Regions from separate parts of the Homo sapiens genome. Here region 1 is linked to region 2. Evidence: fine-mapped expression QTL. Tissue or cell type: whole blood. Region 2 holds a variant in brackets; the other region holds the start of a gene. All regions are shown on one strand. Distances are between the middles of the regions. Region 1 holds the start of RHOU (ras homolog family member U). Region 2 has its middle 39 kb from the start of RHOU.

Region 1 (12,301 bases), 39 kb before region 2:
AGATAGTTTATACTCCTTTGTGTCTGATTTCTTTCACCTCTCATTTAGTTGATGAGATTCATTCCTGTATGTTCACTCATTTTCTTGACTGAATAGTAGTATATCATGAATTACCAAATTAACTCATCCATTTTACTGTTTTAGACATTTATATGGTTTTTAGTTTTGAGCTCTTATAAAATTGCCATTATACGCATTTGTTCACCCACAGAAATCCATGTGTTCACTCATAGAAATGCACGGGTACATATACAGACAGGAATGCACATGTTCATGTATAGAAATGCAGGGTATGCACACACAGAAATGAGTGTCACAGGTGGCATAGTTACAAGATGCAAGAAGACTGCATCCCTGAGTCTCCACTTGAAAGGGAGCTGCCTTGGAGAGCTACTAAATCTGCTGTGAATTTTGCATGACCAAAAAATTAACTCCTATGTTTCTAGACATTGAAATTTTGAGTTCACTTATTATTGCAGCATAGTACAGCCTAATCTGACTAGTATAAAACAACATAAACAGTTTCAGAAATAATTTTTACAATCAAAATTAAGGATTGATTTTTACATCTTAAACTTTCATGATACCAATGGAAGAGCTTAATTTATCCATTCTAGTTATCTACAAGGTGATGGCAGGTGATAAAAGGACTTCTGGAGGCAGGGAAACTAGTATCAGCACATCCAACCAACCATGTGGTCTGAGCCCTTACCATGACACTAACTGATGTTTGTGATTCCTGAAAGGAGCCACTGGTGGCCCATTTGGTGGTTTGGTGACATTTATATGATTTCCCCATCTTTTCTAGTGAAACATGGCAAGACATTTTCCTTGTCATTTTTTTTTCCTAGGATGACATCCCCAGTGGTAAACAAGAAACTATTGGTCAGGGCCCAGTCAGGAAATCAGAGCCACTCCAAGGTACAGGGTTAAGGAAGGAGAGCTTTCACAAGTTTGGGAATTGCTGGGGAAGTTCAGAGGGAAACAGTGCCTAACCCTGACCAGCTGAAACCCTTGTGCAGGATACTGGTGGGAACTTGGAGAAAAGCCAATAGTAAGTTATGCAGATATGGCCCTTGGAGGCTGTGGAAGGGAAGCTTGAGGCATGAGGTGTAGGGACTGCAGCCTCTTTGGGGCCCAGGGGCTGGGTGAGGGCTGAAGGCTGCTCTGGGTCAGCAGAGCCAGCAGTGAGATGATATCACTGCAAAGCAGGAGGCTAGTGAGGATGTGCTGGGCACCGCTGTGTCCATCCACTGGCATGTTTGACCATATGACCCTCCTCCACTTCCCTTCAGTCTTCTCAATTCTGAGAATCATGTCTCCGGACAACTTTAGCCGAGAACCATACAAAGAAGGAAATTCTGGGAGCAGACAGCCATGCTGGCAATAGACAACCCAGCTTAGAGTCTCCAGTTCTAGAGAAATATTCTTCTGATGTCCTCTTATAGGGTATTGAAAAAACTAGGGCACTGCTGAAGGAAAGAAATCAGATTAATGTGTCCAAGGCAAAGGGTTACCATTTAAAGAGTGAATGAACACACAGAGTTATATGACCTGCTAAAATGAAAGATCCAAAAAAACCGTGCTGTTCTGATTTGGTACTCAGTAAATGGTGAAATGTTATCAATAGCAGGAAAAACAGCTTTATATTTAATATGATGATGACAATGACACCTGGCAAGGAATATGTTGAGCAGATAAAAATTTATTTATTTCTTAAATATATCAAAAGATACAAAAGTGACATGTACACAGTGGAAAGTCTATTAGGACCTTTTTTTCTTTTTACCATTTTAGTAAAAAACTACAAATTCACTATTAATTATTTGCTAGTGGAACAGTTAAAATAACTTGATGGAAAAAATCCTAGAAAATGTATTAATACTGTGCTAGGGGAAGAGTTTTGTGAACTGGGGATCCTCCCTTTTAGGGGATTATGAGCAAGGGTAGGTGTTGTATAATCAGTAGATGATTTCACTAGATAAGGGCTGTGATAGGGACAAGCACAAATATATCCACATAAGGGGTCAGGGAACATTTCTGGACTTGGATGAAACACCAATTTGTTTGGTGTGGAGGTCTGCTTTCCTACGTTGCCTGTAGAAGATTCTTATGAATAGGGCAAGCGTTAGTTCTGAGCATTTTAGATAAGGCTGTAGGGGACTGATTCAGTTGAGCCCAGAAAGATGGGCCCAAATGAGTGGGTGTGGGACAGTTCAACATAAAAAGGGGTAAAGCAAGAGAGGGAGGCTATGGAACACAAAAACGAACAGATGGCCAGATGGAGAAGCAAAGCCAAGTTTTGTCGGGCCTGAAGCTTATCACATTTTGAGGACTTCATTAAGAAAAAGAACACAAAATTAAGTATAGAAAATTAGGCAGAAAAATAAACATCCTTGGAGGAGGTGACACCTAAGCGGAGAAAGAGCAAGTTCATGGAAGAAGGAGGAAGGGGTTACAGACCTGTAGTTCGAGGAGAAGACACCTTCTCTGACATGTTGTTGGGGACCCAGGGGTGGGTTGCTGGAAGTCCTGGAGGAGGTGTTGGGGGTAGGTAGGGGGGATGAATGCTCACAGCTGGGCTGGAGGGCCTCAGAGAGACAAGATCTTAAGAACGGAAATTCTGCACCCAGTTTTCAGAATTTTCTAGGCCCACTGCACAATGAAGGCGTTGTACTGTCTTGGTGAAAAACAAATGGGAATACATGAGGTGTAATGCATTTTTTGTCTTAAAACTGAGCAAAGACATGGTTTTCTATTAATAGCTGCAAGAAGTGGTCAAATTTCCTTCATTCATTCTAAAAATATTTTATAAAAGCATAAAAATACAACTGTCCATGTTTTGAGAGTCCATGTTTTACATTCTTCTCCTTTTCTTTCTTTCTTTTTTGCAGAACCGTCAAGTTCAAAACATGTTTTCCTTTCACTTACGTATTTACCACTGCTTAAGTATTTATTAAGCACCTACTACTTGCCCCACGTGCTTCTAAGTGTGGGATATAGGAATGAGCAACATTAAGTTTCTGATTTCATGGAGCTTGTAAGAGGAGACAGACAATAAGCAAATAAACAAACAAATATATCATACAACTTGAACCCACACACCTTGGAGGGCTTCTTGTAGCATTAGTTCCAAGCATTTTAGATAAGGCTGTAGGGGACTGATTAAGTCGAGCCCAGAAACATGGACCCAAATGAGTGGGTGCGGGACAGTTCAACGTAAAAAGGGGTAAAGTAAAGGCATTCTGTAAAGGGGTAAAGTGGTAGGCATTCTGTCATCTCTCTGCTTTTGGACTTGGATGAAATACCGAACTGTTTGGCGTGGGGTCTGATTTCCTATGTTGCCTACAGAAGAGTCTCATGAATAGGGCAAACATTAGTTCCCGGCATTTTAGATAAGGATGCAGGGAGCTGACTAAGTTGTGTCCAGAAAAACGGGCCCAAATGAGTGGGCGTGGGATGATATTCAGCATGAGAAGGGGAAAAGCAAGAGGGGGACGCACAGGACACAAAAACTGACAGCTGGCCAGATGGAGGGGCAAAGCCAAGTTTTGTAGGGCCTGAGGCTTATCACATTTGTGAGACTTCATTAAGAAAAAAAAATACAAAATTAAGAATAGAAAATTAGATACAAAAACAAATGTTTAAAGTGAGAAATGCATCACAATAAGTTACAAATTTTAAAAGGCTAACAAACACCATAAACTTAAACAAAATACATAAGACATGACATTTTAATAAACTGCTTGACACACTTCTATGACATTATTTTCATTTTTCAGTTGCATACCCTTTGATCACTTCTTCAGTTTTGTAAGATATTTTCTATAAGAACAATAGGAAGTTACTTCACACACAGGTGAACTTGCTTTTTGTTGTACTACTACAGCCTCATGTCCTTACAAACATGGGAATTCAGATCATTCATTTCATGTGATTTTTCTCCAAAAATGTATGATGCATTTGTAAGTGTATCTGCTGCATTTAGAGTACAGGTACATTTCTGACAGCAGACAACTTCTGTTTTGATCAGGTTTAGTAGAGAGAACCAAACCTTCTCTAACAATGTTGTGTTTTCTTCTGTTTGTTTCTTTTTGAGACAGTGTCTCACTCTCGCCCAGGCTAGAGTATATTGGTTGATCAAGGGCTCACTGGAGCCTCGACTTCCCAGGCTCAAGTGATCCTCCTACCTCAGCCTCTGGAGTATTTGGATTACAGGTGTGAGTCACCACACCTGGCTAATTTTTTTATTTTTGGTAGAGACAGGGTTTCGCCATGTTGGCCAAGCTGGTCTCGAACTCGTGGCCTCAACCGGTCTGACTGCTTCAGCCCCCCAAAGTGTTGGGATTACAGGCGTGAGCCACCGCACCAGCCGATATTAGGTGCTTTATGATGGAAAGAATTGCCAGACTAGCTTCCAGCTCTGCCCATCTCAAGCTCTGCTACTCTTGCTACTGGAACCCTTCTAGTGTTGGGGAAAGTAAGACAGTTAAGGGCACCAATGTGACTCTCACAGAGGGTCATAGGTATGTCAGTGGTAGCCATTCCTATACCTGGATGGCTAGCAACAACATATCTACATAGGAGAACTGTAAACCACATAAATATATCCTGTCATCACAGCCAGGGCGAGGGAGAGGCAAGTCAGGTACCTGAGGCTCAAAACTTAACATTGGCACTTGCCTGACCCTGAGAGTAAGGGCCCTCTAAATTTGTTGTTTTTTGATATTGCCTCTGAATGCTCAATTTGTCATAAATTTTGCATCCTTGACATCCCCCTTATCTCACCTTCATCCTGATTCTGTATCCCATTACACCCAAACAACCTGTTTGGGTCTCCCCAACTTCACTTTCTTTGGCTGATCCCCAAAATCTTCATGGCCTCTTCAAAGTCACTCAATATGAGGGTAAGTTACAGTTTAAAAAGACAGTGAACATAACTGGTGGTGATTAAAATACTTTTTTTTTTTTCAAAATTTACAGAAACATATTACCACGTGTACACATTGCTAGGTCTTCCAATGTGAAAGTGTCCTTTGCAAGTCAGGGGTCCTGGATTCAAGCTTCTAACTTCTTGATAAATCCATCTCTGCATTCTGACCATGGCCATACGTTCAAGATTACGTTTATCATACTGACTTATTTTTGCCTCCAGGATTTTGGTTAGAAGCTCAGGCTCTGGGGCTAGACTATTTGGGTTTGGATCCTGGCATTGCCACTTACTAGCTTGTGGAATCCCAAAACGTTACTTAATATCTCTGTGCCTCAGGTGTTCTCATCTGTAAGTAATGTTAAGATTAAAAGAATTAGTTCTTGAAGAGTGCTTACAACAGTATCTGACACATTATGAAAGTTCAGTATTTGTTATTGTTATTTTTACTACCACTAGTATCAATGTGTATTAATAATATGTGGCCCTTCTCACACCACGCTGTACACCCCCAGGACTCTTGGTATTCTGACTTGGCTAAGAGGCGTCCTTTTTCTGAATAGACTGTTGACCACATGTAGAAGGAAGGCAGAGAGAGAAATGAATCAAAGGGAAACGGAATATTTTTTCAGACATATTAATGTCTCCGAATTACCTTTAAGTAAATGAAGGAATTGGGGGTATAAAAAAATTTCTGGAGCATACATGTATAAAGGTTCACGGCATGCCGAAAGACAAAGTCAAAGGAGCATTCACAATGGAGCTGGCATCCTTTTGCTTCAAAATGAGAAAAAATCACACGATCAGCTGCAGTTAGACTTAAGGAAAAAAGCTGTCTGTTAATTCAATCTCATTCGCAGGACAGGCCTCCAGGACACTTCATTTTTCCCCCTGGGTGGAGCCGTGGCCAGCCGGGGGCTCCACGGAGTGAATAGGAGGCGGCTCAGGCTTCCTGGCTCGCGTGGGCGCCAGAAAGCGGAACCTCCCGGGCCAGTCGCGCGGTGGTCACCCTCTTGGGAGCTGGGGAGGAGGCTGCGGAGGCTGGCCCGGCTCCTTCGGGCGTCGCTTCCCGGACCGGGTGCGCGGGGTCCCCCGGAACGTGTGTTCCAGGTCCTCCCGCGCCAGTGTTCGCAGTCCCCGCCTGGTCGCGGCGGCGCCTCGGGCGCGGGTGCAGGCGCGCGGCGCGCAGGCGGGGGGCGCTGTGGTCTTGGCGCGGGGACCGAGCCGCTCGGCCAGACCCGCCTCTTTTCCCTCCCCGCCAGCCCGCCCGCCTGCCCGCCCCCCACGCGTCGTGTCGCCGGGAAGCCGGGCGGAGACAGAGCGCTTGGGATCCACGGCGCTCGGACCGCTGTCCTCCAACAGCGCAGGGCAGAGCGGCTGGCGCCGCCGGAGCGCGGAGCCACGACCCTCCCTGGCCGCCTTTGTCTACTGGCCGTGCGGCCCGGAACCGCCACTCTCCAGGGCCGGGGACGCGCCCGCAGCTGTCGGTGACAGCTCCTCCCTACCGCAACCCTCCGGGGCGGAGGGGCGGTCGGGCCGGGCCCTGCTAGCCCGCGACCGCAAGCCCGCGCTCGCGGATCGATGCCCCCGCAGCAGGGGGACCCCGCGTTCCCCGACCGCTGCGAGGCGCCTCCGGTGCCGCCGCGTCGGGAGCGCGGTGGACGCGGGGGACGCGGGCCTGGGGAGCCGGGGGGCCGGGGGCGTGCGGGGGGTGCCGAGGGGCGCGGCGTCAAGTGCGTGCTGGTCGGCGACGGCGCGGTGGGCAAGACGAGCCTGGTGGTGAGCTACACCACCAACGGCTACCCCACCGAGTACATCCCTACTGCCTTCGACAACTTCTCCGGTGAGCTGGCCGGGGGGCCGGGGCCGGGGGCGCGTGGCCGCGGTCCACCCAGGGGAAGGAAGGTGGCGCGAGGGTCGCGAGGTTCCCAAGGGGGCTGCAGGGCCCCGGGCGCGGCTCCAGCTGGGAAGCCGGACAAATGAGGAGTGCAGGACGTTTCCTGAGTCTCAGGGACCGGGCAAGCGCGGAGCTAACACGAAAGGACCACGGCGGAGTGGGCTTGGAGAGAGGAGGGCGGAGCGGCAGTCAGAGCCTTGCCAAAAAAAAAAAAAAAAAAAATCTCACAATTTAAGCAACAGATAAGTAGGAGTGAAACAGGTTGAGTTCAGGGTGCCCGGTCAGTTTGTTGCATAGAGCAAAGTTTCCTGAGGGCGACGTCGCTGGCGCCGCTGCAGAGTTTCAATCAGAAGGTGACGCGCAGGTGCCTTTACCTGAGCGTCGCTCCTTTGCTTTTAGGCGGCTCAGCTCACAAGGGGCGTCTCCGCTTTAAAGAGCCGCGGAGACGCCGGGAAAACACTTGATTTAGTGAAAAAGCGCGAGCGGCCCTCGTGAAGGCTTAGGTTTGGATGAAACCTGAAGAGTAAACACCATTTCTTTCTTCTGAGCCCCACCACCTTCCCTGCCCACATGGGCTCGGATTCTGATTGTTGGTATCTTTTCAGGATCCCTTTAAGCTACTTAAAGCTCCTATGTACCGGGTGCGATGCCATTTCCCTTGGTAGATACAAAGAGAAAGGAATTCTCTATCTTGCTATTCAGGTCTTTTTGAAATTTAAGAAAAAGTTAAAATTCACAGAAACTAGTATGAAACACTTAACTGTCTTGCTTCTTTAAAAAAAAATTGCTTCTCTGACCTTCCTTTCATCCCAAAGGTACCTTAGAGAAATGGGTGCTGTACTGGTGGGTTCCCACCGCAGGGTATTGTTTCTTCCCCTCCCCCCACCCCACCCCTGCAGCTGACTAGTATAAATATTTAGAAACAATTAGAAAGTTGTGTAGAAAGAGACAAAACTGACTGCTTAATTAAAATAGAAACCTCCACAACATGTCCTGCTGCAGGCCTCTCCACACTCCCCGAGTCCCCGGATCCCAGTGGAAAGGGGGCCATGGCTTTCTTTTTTCTTTTTTAATCCTCCTTTTGACCTGACATAGAGATAAGGAGTGCCCTCATTTCTTAAACAGGACAATGCGGGCAGCCTGTGTTTGCACATGTTCTCAAAACACACTAGAATTGTATGATAAACCCTGAAGTTGGGGAACCTTTCCCAAGGGAAAACAGAATTATTTGTGAGGTTTTCCACTGATTTAAAACTGCAGGGTTGCTTCCCATTTACCCCCAGTGTTGTTTTTAGGTCCTTTGAAACAAGTGTGACAGGAAAATAAATCTTCCAGGACTGGGAGAAAAGCATAGGCCTTTTTAGGGTCACCATCAAAGCGTTCAGGGATTTGCTGCCTGGTTCACGGTAATGGAGTGACTTGCCAGCCGTGGGTTTGTATACAAAAATGCCTCCACAGGGCCTCCTTGTTTTTGGCTAGTCTTTAATTCATTAGAGGACCTAAAATAGGAGCAAAGGGGTTTGGAGTGAGAATGATAGTGAAAGCTAAAACTATTAGTATTCCGAAAGGGGTTAAAAGACACCTCCTGATTGTCATTTTGGTTTTGTTTTTAAGCGGTGGTGTCTGTGGATGGGCGGCCCGTGAGACTCCAACTCTGTGACACTGCCGGACAGGTCAGTATCACGTTACAGCTCAGTGCTGGGAAAGGAAACAGCCTTTTAAAGATTTCCAAATAACCTTTGATTCCCTCAGTCAGTAACTGGGTCATTCTAAAGCCTCATGAAGTGGACCCACCCCTGCTGTTGGCCCTTCTCTGAGGGTGGGCAGGGGCCAGGTTATTGGCCGGCAGGAAGCAGAGGAAGATACCTCCAAACTAATAAAGCAGGGTTTGGCCCAGCTCTGCGTAACCAGGCAAGGGAGGAAGCAGTGTCAAGAACAGCTCTTGTAGGAGTTTCTATTACTTACTCCCTGGTTTTTATGAAAAAATTTCAGTGATGCTTTGTCATCATTTCCCAAACTAAGTTAGTGATGTCTTATAATCGTTTTATTAAAGGCCAGTGAGTCAGATATTGAAGAAATTTGCTCAAGAAAAAGATGGAATTTACATCAGTAAGGGTTAATATTTCCCTTCCTGAGCTATGGTTTGACTCGCTAGGACCAGCCCCATCACTTGAAGCACAGATACATTTGTCAGAGCAGTCCTAAGCTGGAGGGATGAACTAACTGGGCTTATTCTATCCAAACTGTGAACGCTGGTTCTTGTCTCGAGGGCTGGGCCCTTGGAGGAAATAGCCAGGGAGTGTAGGGTTCCCTCTTTGTGTTCCCCAGAAGAAGCCCCCATTGGTGGGTACTCGAGTCATTGAAGTCAGGCTGTGCCTTGTGAACACCCAGGGGTACTTGATTTTGGCAAAGTGATAGTTAATGAACTTGTCTCTCTAGTATGTTCTAGAGTTCAGCAAAGTTCCGGGGGTACTTTGTAGGCAGGTGAAAGTGCCCCCTTCACTTTCTGAGGTGCCATCACATGACTATCTGTGTTTATGAAGGCACTGGCTTTCCACTGCCCCCCAGAGCCTCATCTACGCCAGAGCTTCCAAGTTGCTCACCTACTCTGGGACAGCAGATTCAGAGCTAAGGACAGATCTTATTTTTTAAACCTGAAGATGACATAAGACCGTGGAGCCTTGATCTCCAAGGAACACCGGGCTGGTGCAGGCCATAGCTTGGGAGCACTTCAGCTTGGAAAAACCAAGCACTGTCCGTATTGTATTGTCTGTAGAAAACAAAAATCAGGCTGGGTGTGGTGGCTCATGCTCTTTGGGAGGCTGAGGTGGGAGGATTGCATGAGGCCAGGAATTTGAGACCAGCCTGGGTAGCATAGCAAGACATCATCTCTACAAAATAAAAAAATTAGCCTGGTGTGGTGGCACTGTCTGTAGTCCCAGCCACCAGCCACTCAGGAGGCTGAGGTGAGAGGATCGCTTGAACCCAGGAGTTTGAGGCTGTAGTGAGCTATGATGGTGCCACTGCACTCCAGCCTGGGCGACAGAGCAAGATCCCATCTCTTGGGGGTAAAAAAAAAGAAAAATCAAAGAATACAGTCACTTCTAGCACTGAATCTTTCTGAATGCAATGGTGATATTTATAATTCAAGCTTCATTTCCTTGTATGAAGTGAGGATGCTTTGTCTACCAGGGGGTCAGGTTTTCTGAGTTTTAAAACATGGCCAGCCAGGCGCGGTTGCTCACGCCTGTAATCCCAGCACTTTGGGAGGCTGAGACGGGTGGATCATGAGGTCAGGAGTTCAAGACCAGCCTGGCCAAGATGGTGAAACCCCGTCTCTACTAAAAATACAAAAATTAGCTGGGTGTGGTGCCGGGCGCCTGTAATAGCAGCTACTCAGGAGCCTGAGGCAGACAGTTGCTTGAACCTGGGAGGCGGAGGTTGCAGTGGGCTGAGATCGCGTCACTGCCCTGCAGCCTGGTTGACAGAGAGAGATTCCATCTCAAAAAAAATAAAACACAGGCAGAGGAACATGTCAGTAAACATAGCCATCGGACCTGCTGAAGTCAGACCCTGAGGATAAGATGGAAGTCAGGAAAATACAGGAAGTCCAAAGGCACAGTTAGCAGGGAGCCTTACGGGCTGGAGCAGAAGCTCAGTGCACCTACCTGCCCCAGGATGTCACTCAAATATCACTGTCCACTGGGCTCCCCGTAAGTGTTGGCTCTTCAAGCAGGATGCAGCTTCTTGAGCTGGGGTTTCATGCCCAGTGCCCAGCATAGTGCCTGGCACATAGCAGGGCTTAATCTCGTGGTTTTAGAATGGATGAACCAGAGAAGGACCAGGTGGTGGGGGTATAAACATAAGTTGTGGGCCTGCCCCTTAATAGACTTACAGTGTGGAGGGAAGACAAATGGAAGCTCGTGAAGGAGCAAGCAAAGGGAAGAAAAGAGGTTCGGGCTTAGAGGTGCAGGCTGGTTGGGCCTGGCAGGAAAACCTCTGAGCAGAGTTTTGAAAGACAAATAGGAATTTTACCAGAAGAACTTTGCATAAATGACTGAATCATCAAGGAAGAGTTAAATTGTTCCTGTTTAAAAATCAGGGAAGCACAAGCATCACTTTAGTAGTATTTTTGCACAAAAAAGTTTATAATTAGGGAAAAACGAAGGTTTTGGTGCTACATTTGTAAGTTTCAGTTTATTTGAAAATTATTCTTCTGGCCTCTTAGCAATATTTTCAATGAGATTTACTGTATTTCTTAACCTTTGTGTACTGGTTAGAAGAGTATACCCAATTAAATAATGAATAAGACCACTATCTAAAAATTTGTAGACTTTTAGAACCAACTTCAAAACTTTTGAAGAAGAACCATCTTCAAAAACTATGAAAAATAAGCTGCTGGTAAGATAAGTCAGTTGTTCTGTTTTTGTTTTCCTGATCCCCCATTTATAAATTAGTCTTTGTTTAGACTACTAGCCAAGCTGGTCAAAGTGGCAGTTCTTTTCTACTCTCCCTAGTCCTGATCTGATAAAATACATTTTAAGGGACTTGCTGTGATACCTGCCAAGTTTCCTTATGGAGGAAGGAACACATACCTCTTCTAGGCAGTTGACATAAGAGCCTTGAGGGTTAAGTGACTCCACTGACCTCCACTTCAGATGCCTGGAGAATCAACGTGAGCACAGATAGGCTAGAACTTGGGGATGTGGAGCTGGAGTGTGGGTTTCCCACAGAAGTTGATGGGAGCAGAGTATGGATGGCTCTACATGCTGAAGAAATCACTTCTTGTACTTTGGCTTTTCTTGTTAGGGAGGGTAGGCGAGTCTATAAGATGTCAAAAGGAGTTTTTAACACTGGTCTTACATCACTCAAGGGCAGATTGATCAGAGACAGACTGGAGGCTTGAAAAAACATACCTTTGGCATAAGAGAAAAAAGTATTGCGGAAATAGGAGTAGTTCACTGGAGAGTTGCCAATAGAAGCTGAAAATTCTTCAGCCTTTTGACCCATAAAGTACTTGGAAAAATCTTATACTGAAAAAAAAAAATCAAGTTGCAGCTAGACCAGAGGGATGTAGAATCCAGTCTCGTCTCTCTGCCCCGCCAACCCTGATCAGACTTCTGTGCAGTGTCCGTACCACAGACCTGGCAAGCACATGCAAATTGCTTGGCCTCAGAACGCCTTTTCTTAAGGGTGCATTCCAGTTGTCCTCATTGCACGTGTGTATTGCATTATTTCTAAGATTTCAGGTCAGGCACTGAGCAGGAGGGTCTAATTTCTGTTTTATTTCTCAAGCCCCTTAGCCAGAATCTCAAGAGATCTGGGGAGATAGCTTTCCAAAGCCCCCTCAGAAGTCCCAGCCCTTGTGCTTGCCTTTATTTTTCTCAGTAATGCAACCCCAGATACCAGGGCATGGCCAGGGGTGCAGCTACCTGAGGGGGCTGCCTTAATACTGGTCTCAGTTTTATGCTTCT
Region 2 (12,301 bases):
GGAGGAGGCTCTGAGCTCGAGAGAGGGGGGCATGGGAATGAAAAGGTGAGTGCCAATGTCACATTGTGGGTGGAATCTCTAGAAATGATTGACCACAGCAGAAGCTGTGCTCAACAATCACACTAAGATTTTAAGCCAGGAAAGGGAAGATAACTGCACCAGGGGCAGAAATACAAAGTCAGGAGGAGGCACTGGCTATGATTGAGGGGAGATGATTTTATTTTAGATTTGAAGTGTGATAAAACTAATGTGTGTTGCAGTGATTAGGAGAGATCTGGAAGGAGAAGCTGCACTCTGGAAGAGGGTTTAGTGCCATCTGGACCCCAGTCTGTGGAGGCCACGTCATATCAGAGCAGACCTCCCACGTATGGCTGTGTTCCAGCGTTAGTCGTAAACCATTAATAGACACACTGTCCCTTTCATGGCCCCCACCCTCCTGACTACTGCCCTTGAGAATATAACCTTGCTTTACCCTTCCTTGGAGAAGGTAAGTTATGGTGCCATAAAAAATATCCCAAAGTCTCAATGGCTCAAACAGTAAAGATTTATTTCTTGTTCACATTATACATCACGGTGTCATTGTCCTCCCTCTGGATCCAGGCCACGGAGCTGCTGTTCATAGTCATCATGGCATCAGGAAGAGAGAGCTTGGCAAAGCCTTCGTGTGCACTTAAAACTTTCATCCCAGAGAGGCCCAAGCGCCGAGAGACACACCTCCTGTGTGGAAGGATTCCAGATGACAGATACAAAGGCAGCATGGGTTAACTGTCCAGCCCTCAGAATGCGCTGTGCCCTACTGTACTCCCCTCATAAAGCGGGGGGCCTTCGCAATGGGGAAGCCAGGCAAACACCACGTCGGCCCAGTGACCAAGGTCTACACGCATCTGTGATGAGACATATTGGTAGCAGGATCTTAATGGGATGTGATGAGAAGGGCGTCTCTCCTCTGTGGTCTTCCCACCCCAACCCCATACCCTCAGTCTGATAATCATGGTGAAAACATCAGACAAACGCAAATTGAAGTATATTCTACAAAATACCTGCCCTGGATTCCTCAAAACTGTCAAAGTCATCGAAAATGAGGAAAGTCTGAGAAACTGCCACAGCCCAGAGGAGGCTAAAAAAAAAGATGACAAACAAATGCAATGTGATGTCCTGGATGGGACCCCGGACAGAAAACGGACCTTAGGGGAAACCTAGTGAAATCTGAGTAACATGTGCACTTTAGTTAATGCACCAAAGTTGGTTCCTTAACTATGACAAAGGTAGCCAGAAAATGTAAGGTGTTACTAGTAGGAGAAACTGGGGGAGGGGCATGTGGAAACTCCATATGCTATCCTCGCAACTTTTCTTCAAATCAAAGTATTCTTAAGAAAAGTGTTTATATAAATTAAACAAAAAAGAGGTGCATGCCATTTCCACTCACAGAATTAACCCAAGAACTCGGAGCTCCTTGCTCACACCAGATTCTTCCTCTCAAATACTGTCACTCAATATCATGAGATTATGAAAATAAAGGAAGTCTATACCTTGTGGCCAGGAGTGACCAAATACTAAATAAATTTTTCAACTGTAGTTAGACGGAGAAAGGAAATCAAGTGAAATGGTATGCACCAATATTCTGTAAAACAAAGCAAAACAGCAAAGAGAAATAATATTTATTCAGGATTACCACTTCCAATTTCATTGACCTGTGGCCACACCTAACCCATGTGGCAGACGGTGGCAGTGTGCAGTCCCACCGTGTGTCTAGGGGATTTGTGGCTGTGCCTTCTTCCACCCTTTGGACCTGAAGCTTAGTGCCACTTCTCAGACTCCTGTGCCCTCGTGTGACTCGTTGGCTAGGATTTCGATTTTTTTCTTTACTCATCCTGGGTGACTGTCTCCCTTGGTCCAGTCTGATCCCTGGAACACCCTAAAACACAAAGTCCTTTTTTGTGTATCATGCTTCTACACTGCCTGCCTGGCCCCAGGAGCGCCGTGGACAGAGAGAATAACATCTGCGTTACAAAAGGTTATCAGAACGCAGTAGAATTGAGGCTAGTGAGGAGGGTGGAATGGAACAGACCTAGAACCATGCATGATCTGCAGGGGACACAGCAAGGGGCCTGGCTGGCTAGGCTAAAGGGTTTATGTGAGGGTGTACTAAGGAAACTGGAGGGAGATGTGGTGTTGGGTTGCGAAGGGTCCTGTGTGCTTGGCAGAGAAGCTTGCGCTTCTCCGAGTGGAGAGATTCCACTGTGTCAGTGGAAGGGTGCAGGTTGCCTTGTTCTCCACAGAGGAATCTGGTGACAGTGCTCAGGAGGGATGGTGGCAGACATCAGAAATCAAAATCTGAAAGCCAGAACCCATGTTCATTCAAATTACCATGAACATTCTGGAATGGAAAACAATAATAAAAAGAGGTCCAAAGGTGTGAGATGGAAGCTGTCAGTTTTAACTCCAAAATATACTTATCTCTTGTACACTATCTGTGGTTGAGATCCACAAGAAAGGGAGCTCCCAGAGTCATATGTTTAGATGTTTTGTTTACAAATAAACTGTCACAGCATAGAAGTTTTCCTTCTCTCTCATCTGATTTTTTTTTCTTGGAGCAGTTTATAGTCTATATTTCCACTTCTCCTCTCAAAGTAACATACACCTTTGAATGGCTCGCAGGGTCACTTCTGCCTTCAACAAATTAGCAGCTGGGCCAGGAGCCAAGATCATGCAGTTTGGTGTTTCCAAGTGGCCTTGTTGCATCTGCTGGGCTAAATTACCAGTTTGTGGGACCAGCGGGCCCCAGTGTGTGTTGCTATGCCCCTGGGAGAGAGTCTCGTGTTTCTCTAGTGTCAGGTCTGTAGTCAGTATCATTACATTCTCATTTCTTCAAATATTGCCACTGATTGGAATTTGTTTTACAAAAGAGTCACTGAGTTGGAGTCATTGCTACAAGAGTGCATTGACTTCTAGAGCAAATATAATAAAAGGTGAGTAGAAATTAGGTAATGAAGTAACAAATGTTTGGGGAAAGTGCTGGCTGCCGGCGTCCTGCTCCTGGATATCCAACACAGCATCTGTGAATTGCGCTCATCCAAGCTGCCATCAATCTGCCTTCTCTCTGCTGAAAACCTGTCTGCTATTCTCATGAATTGCCAGCTAGGTAATAATTATATCTGTCCTAGGCACTTTACTCCTTTACAGAATTTTTTATAGTGTCCGTGGGATTCCTTTCCTAACACAGAACACGACAAGGTACAACAGTTAGGCACAGTGCATGATGTGAGGGTAAAGAGAAAGGCAGGCCGGGCGCGGTGGCTCATGCCTGTAATCCCAGCACTTTGGGAGGCCAAGATGGGTGGATCACGAGGTCAGGAGATGGAGACCATCCTGGCTAACACAGTGAAACCTCGTCTCTACTACAAATACAAAAAATTAGCAGGGCGTGGTGGCGGGCGCCTGTAGTCCCAGCTACTCAGGAGGCTGAGGCAGAGAATGGCGTGAACCCGGGAGGCGGAGCTTGCAGCGAGCCAAGATTGCGCCACTGCACTCCAGCCTGGGCAACAGAACGAGACTCCGTCTCAAAAAAAAAAAAAAAAAAAGAGAAAGGCAATGTTGGCAGCCTACTGATAAGCTTCCAAATGTCTCATTTCTTTTTGCTGAGGCTTTTGATTTTGCTTTGTTTCAGAAAACATTAGCATGTAAAATTTGATTTGGCTCTCCCGCTCCCTAGATTAGAAGTTAATAAATTTCATTGGTATTTGATCTCGCCACAGGCTATTTCATTAGCTAAAGAAAAGTTTCATTAATTTTAGTGACCTCATAACTATACTGGATGGTAGACTCTGATGTGAGCAGGTAGTTACACTGTTCCTATTCGGTTTAATCTTTATATTTCCCTTGGAGATGGATGGCATGGCCCTGCTAATTTTCGCAGCTATATAAATATAGATTAAAAACAGCATCTAAGATTGGATACTGTTATGGTTCTCCTGTCTGTTCTTAGGGTAATCAGGGATGCTTCTTTGTGGGAGGGACTGCCTGGAGCAAAGGGGCCCTCCCCAGGACTTGTGGGAGGGAAGCAGGCAAGAGACATTCAGACAAAGCCCATTAGGCACCTGGAGAACTTGACAGGCTATGATGATACAGACAAATCATGGTTCCCTTGCCATTTCTTTTGCAGAAAGTAAAGAATTTTAGATCTATTACATGAATATGTTTAAAACACAAACAATTCATTGCTCCTGCTGGTAGCTTTTAAGATAAGTGGAAGAAATTATTATCCTAAATGGCATTTGAACTGTATAGTGAAAGCCCAATTTTATCTATTGTTTTGTATTTAAAACATTCAGAATAATGACAGATATGCACAACAACATGGATGTACCTCACAAACATGAAGTTGAGCAAAAGAATCCAGGCCCAGAAGATTATATGTTATTATTCTATTTATGTAATAGTTATCTAAACAAAACAAAACAAAAACAGACAAAACCAATCTGTGGCATTAGAAGACCAGAGTGGTTATAGTCGGGGGTAGTGATGGGGGGTGGTTATAGTGGTTATAATTGGGAGTAATGATGGGGGTGGTTATAGCGGTTAGAGTTGGGGGTAGTGATGTGGGGGCAGGAAAGGGCCATCTGGGGGTGCTGAAGATGTTCTATTTTTGATACTGAGTTTATTCACTCTGAAATAGGTCATTGCAAGTTGTATACTTTTTTTGTAAATAGTTTGCATTTCATTAAAAATTTAAACAAATAAAAAGAGAATTCACACACACACACACACACACACACACAAGACAGAGAGGGCGAGAGAGAGCAAGAGAGTGAGAAAGCTAGAGAGAGAGAATGTTTACATAAATGATCTCGTTTAATTTCCTGACAACAACCTGTGAAGGAGGCTTGGGGGATGTGAGGGCCCCACCCCCTGAGATGCTGTGGGTCTTGGAGAACTAAGTGCTTTTGACCCACCTGTCTTCTAAAGAGGGTCCAGTGCCCTCCCTTCCCCTCCCCTGCACCTCACTGCCTGCTGGCAGGGCTCACCCATTGTAATGTGTGGGTAAAATCAGGGGAGATGGACAAAGCCAGAGCCCTCTTGATGCTGAGTCTAGTATAGAGGAGAAGCGAAAGGCACACAGAATCCTGTACTCTGATTAGTAAGGAGAAAACCCAGATCAGAGGTCTGTAGTTTTTAAAAGCCAGTTAAACCCGGGAGGGTCCTCATAAACCCTCATGTGCAAAGGGCTTCCAAACACACTTGGTTCATAAATTAACAGCTAAACAGGAACATGGATCCCCACCGATGGCTCCATGTGGGAGTCTGAGACCAGCAAGTACTCAGCGACCACCATGGATGCCTTGTGTATTATTCGTCTCCTATTGAGAGGTGACAGTGTGCTGGCAGTCCTCACAGCCCTCGCTTGCTCTTGGCGCCTCCTCTGCCTGGGCTCCCACTTTGGCGGCACTTGAGGAGCCCTTCAGCCCACCGCTGCACTGTGGGAGCCCCTTTCTGGGCTGGCCAAGGCCAGAGCCGGCTCCCTCAGCTTGCAGGGAGGTGTGGAGGGAAAGGTGCGAGCGGGAACCTGGGCGGCACGCGGCGCTTGCGGGCCAGCTGGAGTTCCGGGTGGGCGTGGGCTTGGCGGGCCCTGCACTGGGAGCAGCCAGCCGGCCCTGCCGGCCCGGGCAATGAGGGACTTAGCACCCGGGCCAGTGGCTGCGGAGGGTGTACTGGGTCCCCCAGCAGTGCCAGCCCGCTGACGCTGCACCCGATTTCTCGCTGGGCCTTAGCTGCCTTCCCACGGGGCAGGCCTCGGGACTGCAGCCCGCCATGTCTGAGCCTTCCCCCGCCTCCGTGGGCTCCTGTGCAGCCCGAGCCTCCCCGATGAGCGGCGCCCCCTGCTCCACGGCGCCCAGTCCCATCGACTACCCAAGGGCTGAGGAGTGCGAGCGCATGGCGTGGGACTGGCAGGCAGCTCCACCTGCAGCCCCGGTGCGGGATCCACTGGGTGAAGCCAGCTGGGCTCCTGAGTCTGGTGGGGACGTGGAGAACCTTTATGTCTAGCTCAGGGATTGTAAATACACCAATCGGCACTCTGTATCTAGCTCAAGGTTTGTAAACACACCAATCAGCACCCTGTGTTTAGCTCAGGGTTTGTGAGTGCACCAATGGACACTCTGTATCTAGCTGCGCTGGTGGGGCCTTGGAGAACCTTTGTGTCCATACTCTGTATCTAACTAATCTAATGGGGACGTGGAGAACCTTTGTATCTAGCTCAGGGATTGTAAATGCACCAATCAGCGCCCTGTCAAAACAGACCACTGGGCTCTGCCAATCAGCAGGATGTGGGTGGGGCCAGATAAGAGAATAAAAGCAGGCTGCAGGCGCCAGCAGTGGCAACCCACTCAGATCGCTTTCCACACTGGGGAAGCTTTGTTCTTTTGCTTTTTGCAGTAAATCTTGCTACTGCTCACTCTTTGGGTCCACACTGCTTTTATGAGCTGTAACACTCACTGTGAAGGTCTGCAGTTTCACTCCTGAGCCAGCGAGACCACGAACCCACCAGGAGGAAGAAACTCCGAACACATCTGAACAT[C/T]AGAAGGAACAAACTCCAGACACGCCGCCTTTAAGAACTGTAACACTCACGGCGAGGGTCCGCGGCTTCATTCTTGAAGTCAGTGAGACCAAGAACCCACCAATTCCGGACACACTATCACTTCTGTAACAAAATACCACAAATTTCGTGGCTTAAAACAACACAAATGTATTATCTTTTGTGTGTGTGGTTTTTTTTTCTTATTTTAGGGACAGGGTCTTTCTATGTTGCTCAGGCTGGACTTAAACTCCTGGGCTCAAGTGATCCTCCTGCCTGCCTCAGCCCCTCTTCCCTAACGCCTGCCTCAGGAGCTGGGACTACAGGTACGAGCCACTGGGCCCAGCTACAGATGTGATATCTGAAATGTGTTCTCCATGGGTCTTACTGGACTACACTCAAGGTGTCAGCAGGACTGCATTCCTTTCTGGAGGCTCAAGAGGGGAGAATCTGTTTCCTTGAGCATTCAGATTGTTGGTGGAATTCAGTTCTCTGTGATTGTAGGACTGAGGTCCCTATTTCCTTGCTGACATCAGCGGGGTCATTCCCAGCTTCTAGAGGCCACCCCCGCATTCCCTGACTCTAGCCTCTTTCTCCATCTTCAAAGCGAGCAACAGTGAGTGGAGTCCCTCTCATGATTTGAATCTCTCCTGTCTTCTCATCTCTCTGACATCAGCCAGTTCTCTACTTTTAAGAGCTCATAGATTGTGCCCTCCTAGTTAATTCTGGATAATTGCCCCATCTTGAGATCTATAACCTTAACCACATCTGCAAAGCACCCTTTGTTGTATTACGTAAAGGGTTCCAGGGACCAGGGCATGGACATCTCTGGGGGCTGTTATTTGGCCTACCACATCTCAGAACACTATACGGAAGAGACTTTACCCGAAACATGAGCACACGCACATCTGGGGCCGGCCCTCCTGATTGTGGCTGTGGCACTGAAGAATTTGCAGCAGGTAATGCAAAGCATTAGCAGACCTAGAGTGTGCTCTTTGTCTTACATCTTGGGTGTGAAACAATTCATTGCTGGTGTTAGAAAGCAGATTCCACTGAGCCAGGAGAAACATGAGGAAGCCACCAAAGCAGTCCCATGTATGTTTTTAAAAAGTTGCCATAGGGCCCGGCACGGTGGCTCACGCCTGGAATGCCAGCACTTTGGGAGGCCAAAGCAGGTGGATCACTTGAGGCTAGGATTTCAAGACCAGCCTGGTCAACATGATAAAACCCTGTCTCTACTAAAAATACAAAAATTTGCTGGGCATGATGGCATGCACCTGTAATCCCAGCTACTCAGGAGGCTGAGGCAGGAGAATTGCTTGAATCCGGGAGATGGAGGTTGCAGTGAGCGAGATTGCGTCACTGCACTCCAGCCTGGGCAACAGAGTGAGACTCTGCCTCAAAAAAAAAAAAAAAAAAAGTTACCATAACCCACACAGTAGCATTGGCATCACTTTCAGGTGACAAAATGCGGGAGCTGTGTGCTAACATCACCATGAGAATGCTGGTGCTGTGGGAGTGCACCACCGACTGCGTGAAACCGACTGCGTGAAACCGACAGGACAGAGGTGTCCACTCCTCCAGGACAATTGGTGCTGTCCCCATGGGTCAAGTGGTGACTGGTACTCTAGGTGCAGATCTGGTGGTCACTTTTTCCAAGTCAAAACAACGACCGAGGCAACTTCTATTGAAATGCTTTGCTTACAGCAAAGTTCTGCCTCATGACAGCATAGACTTCAGCATCAGAAACCTGTCCATCAGCGATGTTCATTGCAGAAGGAATGGCTTCTCCCTGCTGTGGAAGCTTCCAACTTTGCTGCATAGATGAGAACCCTGGGCCATCCAGGCCTAATCAGAGTTGGCCAACCCCCAGGCTGAGTGGCCACACTGCTCCGTTGTTTGCAAGGAGAAGTTTGATGTGGCAAGAAGCTGGAAAAGGCACAACATCTGGAAGTCTGGTGATGATATTGCAGTTGGTGTGGTTCCTGCCAGGGTCACAAGTATAAAGAGCTTCTCAGACCTGAGATAGTTTTGCTGTCAAGATATGACAGAGTCTGCAGCTGTGGGTGTCATGAAGACAGTTAACAAGAAGGCTGATGGAGGCAGCAAGACAAAATGTCCATCCAGAAATCTGAGGTTAAAAGAATATTCCATCCCACATCTGTGCCCTAGTCTCAATCTGACCCAGAATTGACTCGGCACCATTTGTCCTGATGGACAATTTGAGTCATTTGTGTTCAAGGGTAAAACATCGGCTACTGGTACAATGGACCATAAAAGCTTCAAAAGGAAAAGAATGTTTTGTGGACTAGTTGTTTCACAGTAATATTAAATTTTTAGATTTCAAAATAGATGTTTTAAAATGGAAACAACGTGACCAAAAATTGGCCTCAGAATTTTCAGCCCATTAAAACAAAATTTAATGTGGAAAAAAATTAAAAAGAAATACTGTAGGATAAAGATGAGAAAATCTTCTAGGAACTGGAACAAAAATACAAAGGCATTTTAAAAATAGGAGAAAAAGACAAAATTAAATGGTCTATCCACAAGGCCCAACATCCTACTAAAAGGAATTCCAAGTGAGAACGAGGGAAATGGAGGGAAGAGTTTGTCAAAGATGTCATTTAAGTAAAAATTTCAGAAATGAAAGACACAAGGCCTCAGGGTGTATCTACCACATGCCAGCACACGATGAGTGCAAAACACCAGCAGCAAGGTATGTCAGCATGTGTTCTCAGAGGCTGAGATAAAAAGATTTAAAAATGCTCCACAGAGGAAAACGTAGCTCATATACAGAGAATGAAAATTCAAATGCTATTGGACTTTTCAACAGTCCTGTTGGAAGCTCGGAAACTGAGCAGCAGGCCTTCAAATTTCTGAGGGAAAATGACATCTATCCTAGGATTCTATATGCAGTTAACTGGGTATAGTCAGATGGCACGACAAAGACAATTTCAGACAGGCAAGGTCTAAAAAACATGTATTTTCCATGCACACTTCTTAATAAACTTAATCAAAAGAAGAAATAAATTGAGAAAAATGATTTGGGATTCAGATCCCACACAGGAGAGAGTCACAGGGAGTTCCCAGGTTGTGCTGGGTGGAGCCCCAGGTGTGTGGGCCAGGCCTGGGGAACAGCCTGTGCAGGTGGGTCAAGAAGATAGGAGGCTTCAGGAGGGATGTTTCCAAGAAAAAAAAAAAAGGTGTATTATCTGATACCTTTGTCTATATTTTATTCAGAGGAATTTTGTAGCTTTGTTTGAAGAATTTGATTAGGAATAAGTGACAGGTACATAGAAAACTGCACAAACGAAAAGAACATACTATCTCTGGAAAAACAATGTTGTGCTAGTAACAAAATGTATTTATAGTATATTATGTGGCTCAGCCTTGAGCCATATTCACATGGTTGTAAATAAAGTAAACATTACATATTGATTGAGCCAAAACTTGTGACATAACTACTTTAAGAGGATGGGAGTGAGGAAGTACAGGCAGTGGGTGGGAAGGGGGATATGTTGATGTAAGAGCTGGATTCCAATCTTATGTAATAGGAAGTCAGTAGATGATGCTTAAAATTATAAAATGAAGAAAAAACCCACAACCATATAAGTGTATCATTTAAAAATACAAAGGAAAATTCCTAAGAAAATTCCTAAAAATTCCAAAGAAAAGCTAAAAGAGGCCAGATGTGGTGGCTCACAACTATAATCTCAGCACTTCAGGAGGCTGAGATGGGAGGATCACTTGAGGCCAGGAGTTCAAGACAGCCTGGGCAACATGGTGAGACACTCCCTCCCCCCTCCCCCTGCCCTGGTCTCTAAAAAAAAAAATTAGCTGAGAATGGTGGCACGTGCCAATAGTCATAGAGGCTGAAGCAAGAGGATTGCTTGAACCCAGGAATGAGCTGTTTTCACACCACTGCACTCCAACCTGGGCAACAGACTGAGACTCTGTCTCCAAAACAAAACAACACAAAAGAGTCACCTCTGGGGGTTGGAATTCAGGGTAGAGGAAACGGTGTCAGGAAACTTCTTTTTTAATTTCCAGGACTTGTGGTATATTTGAATGTAAAAACCTTTATGTAAAGCCGGGCTTGGTGGAGTGTTCCTTTAGTCTCAGCTACTCAGGAGGCTGAGGCAAGAGGATTCCTTGATCCCAGGAGTTCGAGACCAATCTGGGCAACATAGCATGACCACTGCCCACCCCTGCCTTCTGGCCCCATCTCATTTTTTTAAGAGAAAAAAATTTCAAAAAACCTTTATATATGTATTTCTCTGACAAAAATATAACTTAAAAAATTTCAAGGAACATTAAACTTTGCCTGCTATTATAGCAGTTATGTCTCAATACCATAATGTAGGTCAGACTTGCATAATGCATGGCTGCTGGTGGCATTACACAGCAGATGCATGACTCTCCCTGGGACAGCCAAGGGTAAGGCCAAACAGAGCTGGCTCATGCTTTCCTTCCAGGTTTCCCCATGGACTTCCTTGAGTCCACTTTTTTCTTCTCTCAGAATCACAGGGTTACTGAGAAAGAGTTGCTTAGATATGTATTGAGAGCCAAAAGTGACATATACTGAGGTCATTAATAATGTAGGGTGATTATCTGGAAAATTCTGAATAATTCAGCTAAAAACATGCAATATTTTAATGGCAGGGGCAGTTATTTGAATTGAATTTCCTGATTTTGGTCTCCACCCTAATCAAATTTACTAGACATCACTGGACATTGACTTCTCCCTGCCTGGTAGCCCAGTTTGAGAGCTTTGAGATAGAGTTAGCGCCCAACCCAGCTGGAATCCCCACATAGATTGACTTGAGTCCCTTTTGCTGATCTTAGAACTCACACTATCCACATGAGCATCTTTCTGAGGCCATCCTTTCCCTCTCTGTTGTTCCCCTGCTTTAAGCTCTATGCTAAGGGGCTGTCTGTATGAAGTTAGGAATCAGAATTCTGTGTATTTGCAGACACTGGAGGCTGACCCAAGCCAGGCTACCCACCTGATCCAGCTTTCCTATATTTGTATGTGGCAGAATCTAGTTGTGATTTTAACTCCGTGATGAACTGTGTGACCTTGGGCAAGCCATTCAACCTCTCTCAGCTTTAGTTTCTTGTACTTATGTCATGGGGTTGTTGGAAAGATTAATTTGGGGTTTAACCTGGTATGTTAACTGCTCAAAAAATATGAGCCATTTTTGAACAGAAATAACTAGAGAAAGCCTCTGCAGTGACATTGAGGGGACAGTCTTATCTCAATCAAGGCTTCGCTGGGCTTCTGAAGCATTTAGCACAAATCCTATCTGACATAAATTGGAGAAGTTGGTCCCTCTAAAATCTAGATTTTGTGGTTCTCAAACTTCAGTAGGTGTAAGACACACTTGGAGAGGTTGTAAAATGCAGATTCCTTGGCTCTACTCCTAAGGGATCCTAATTCTGGAAGTCTGGAGTGTGGCCCCAGAATCTGCATTTTCACAAGCACTGGAGAAAAACCTAGGGCTTCGTCCATCCTATGGTGTTTCAAAAGATCTCCCCCTCCAGCCCCATGGGTAGAGAATCAGGGTGGAGTCCAATTAGGGCGTGATTGGTGTCCAGGGAAGTGCTGAGCCCCCAGGGGACTAAGGTCCATGTTGGGTGGCCCACCTAAGGAGTAAGACAAAAGTAGGAACCAAAAGCACACAAAACCAAACAAATTGAATAATGAAGAATAGAAAATGAACAGAAATG

What was found. PIP is the estimated chance that this variant, and not a neighbour inherited with it, causes the effect.
Region 1: RHOU starts here. The variant in region 2 is fine-mapped to the expression of RHOU in whole blood (TOPMed, PIP 0.92).

Annotation. Positions count from the first base shown.
Region 1 is chr1:228,729,232-228,741,532 of GRCh38, forward strand. RHOU (ras homolog family member U) reads left to right here and starts at 6,248. Exons shown (of 3, transcript NM_021205.6): 1 at 6,248-6,773; 2 at 8,442-8,500. The coding sequence starts at 6,512.
Region 2 is chr1:228,768,162-228,780,462 of GRCh38, forward strand. It overlaps the pseudogene LOC100421842. Among named protein-coding and RNA genes, the nearest start is that of RHOU, 39 kb to the left of the region's middle. The variant C/T (reference allele first, on the strand shown) is at 6,575.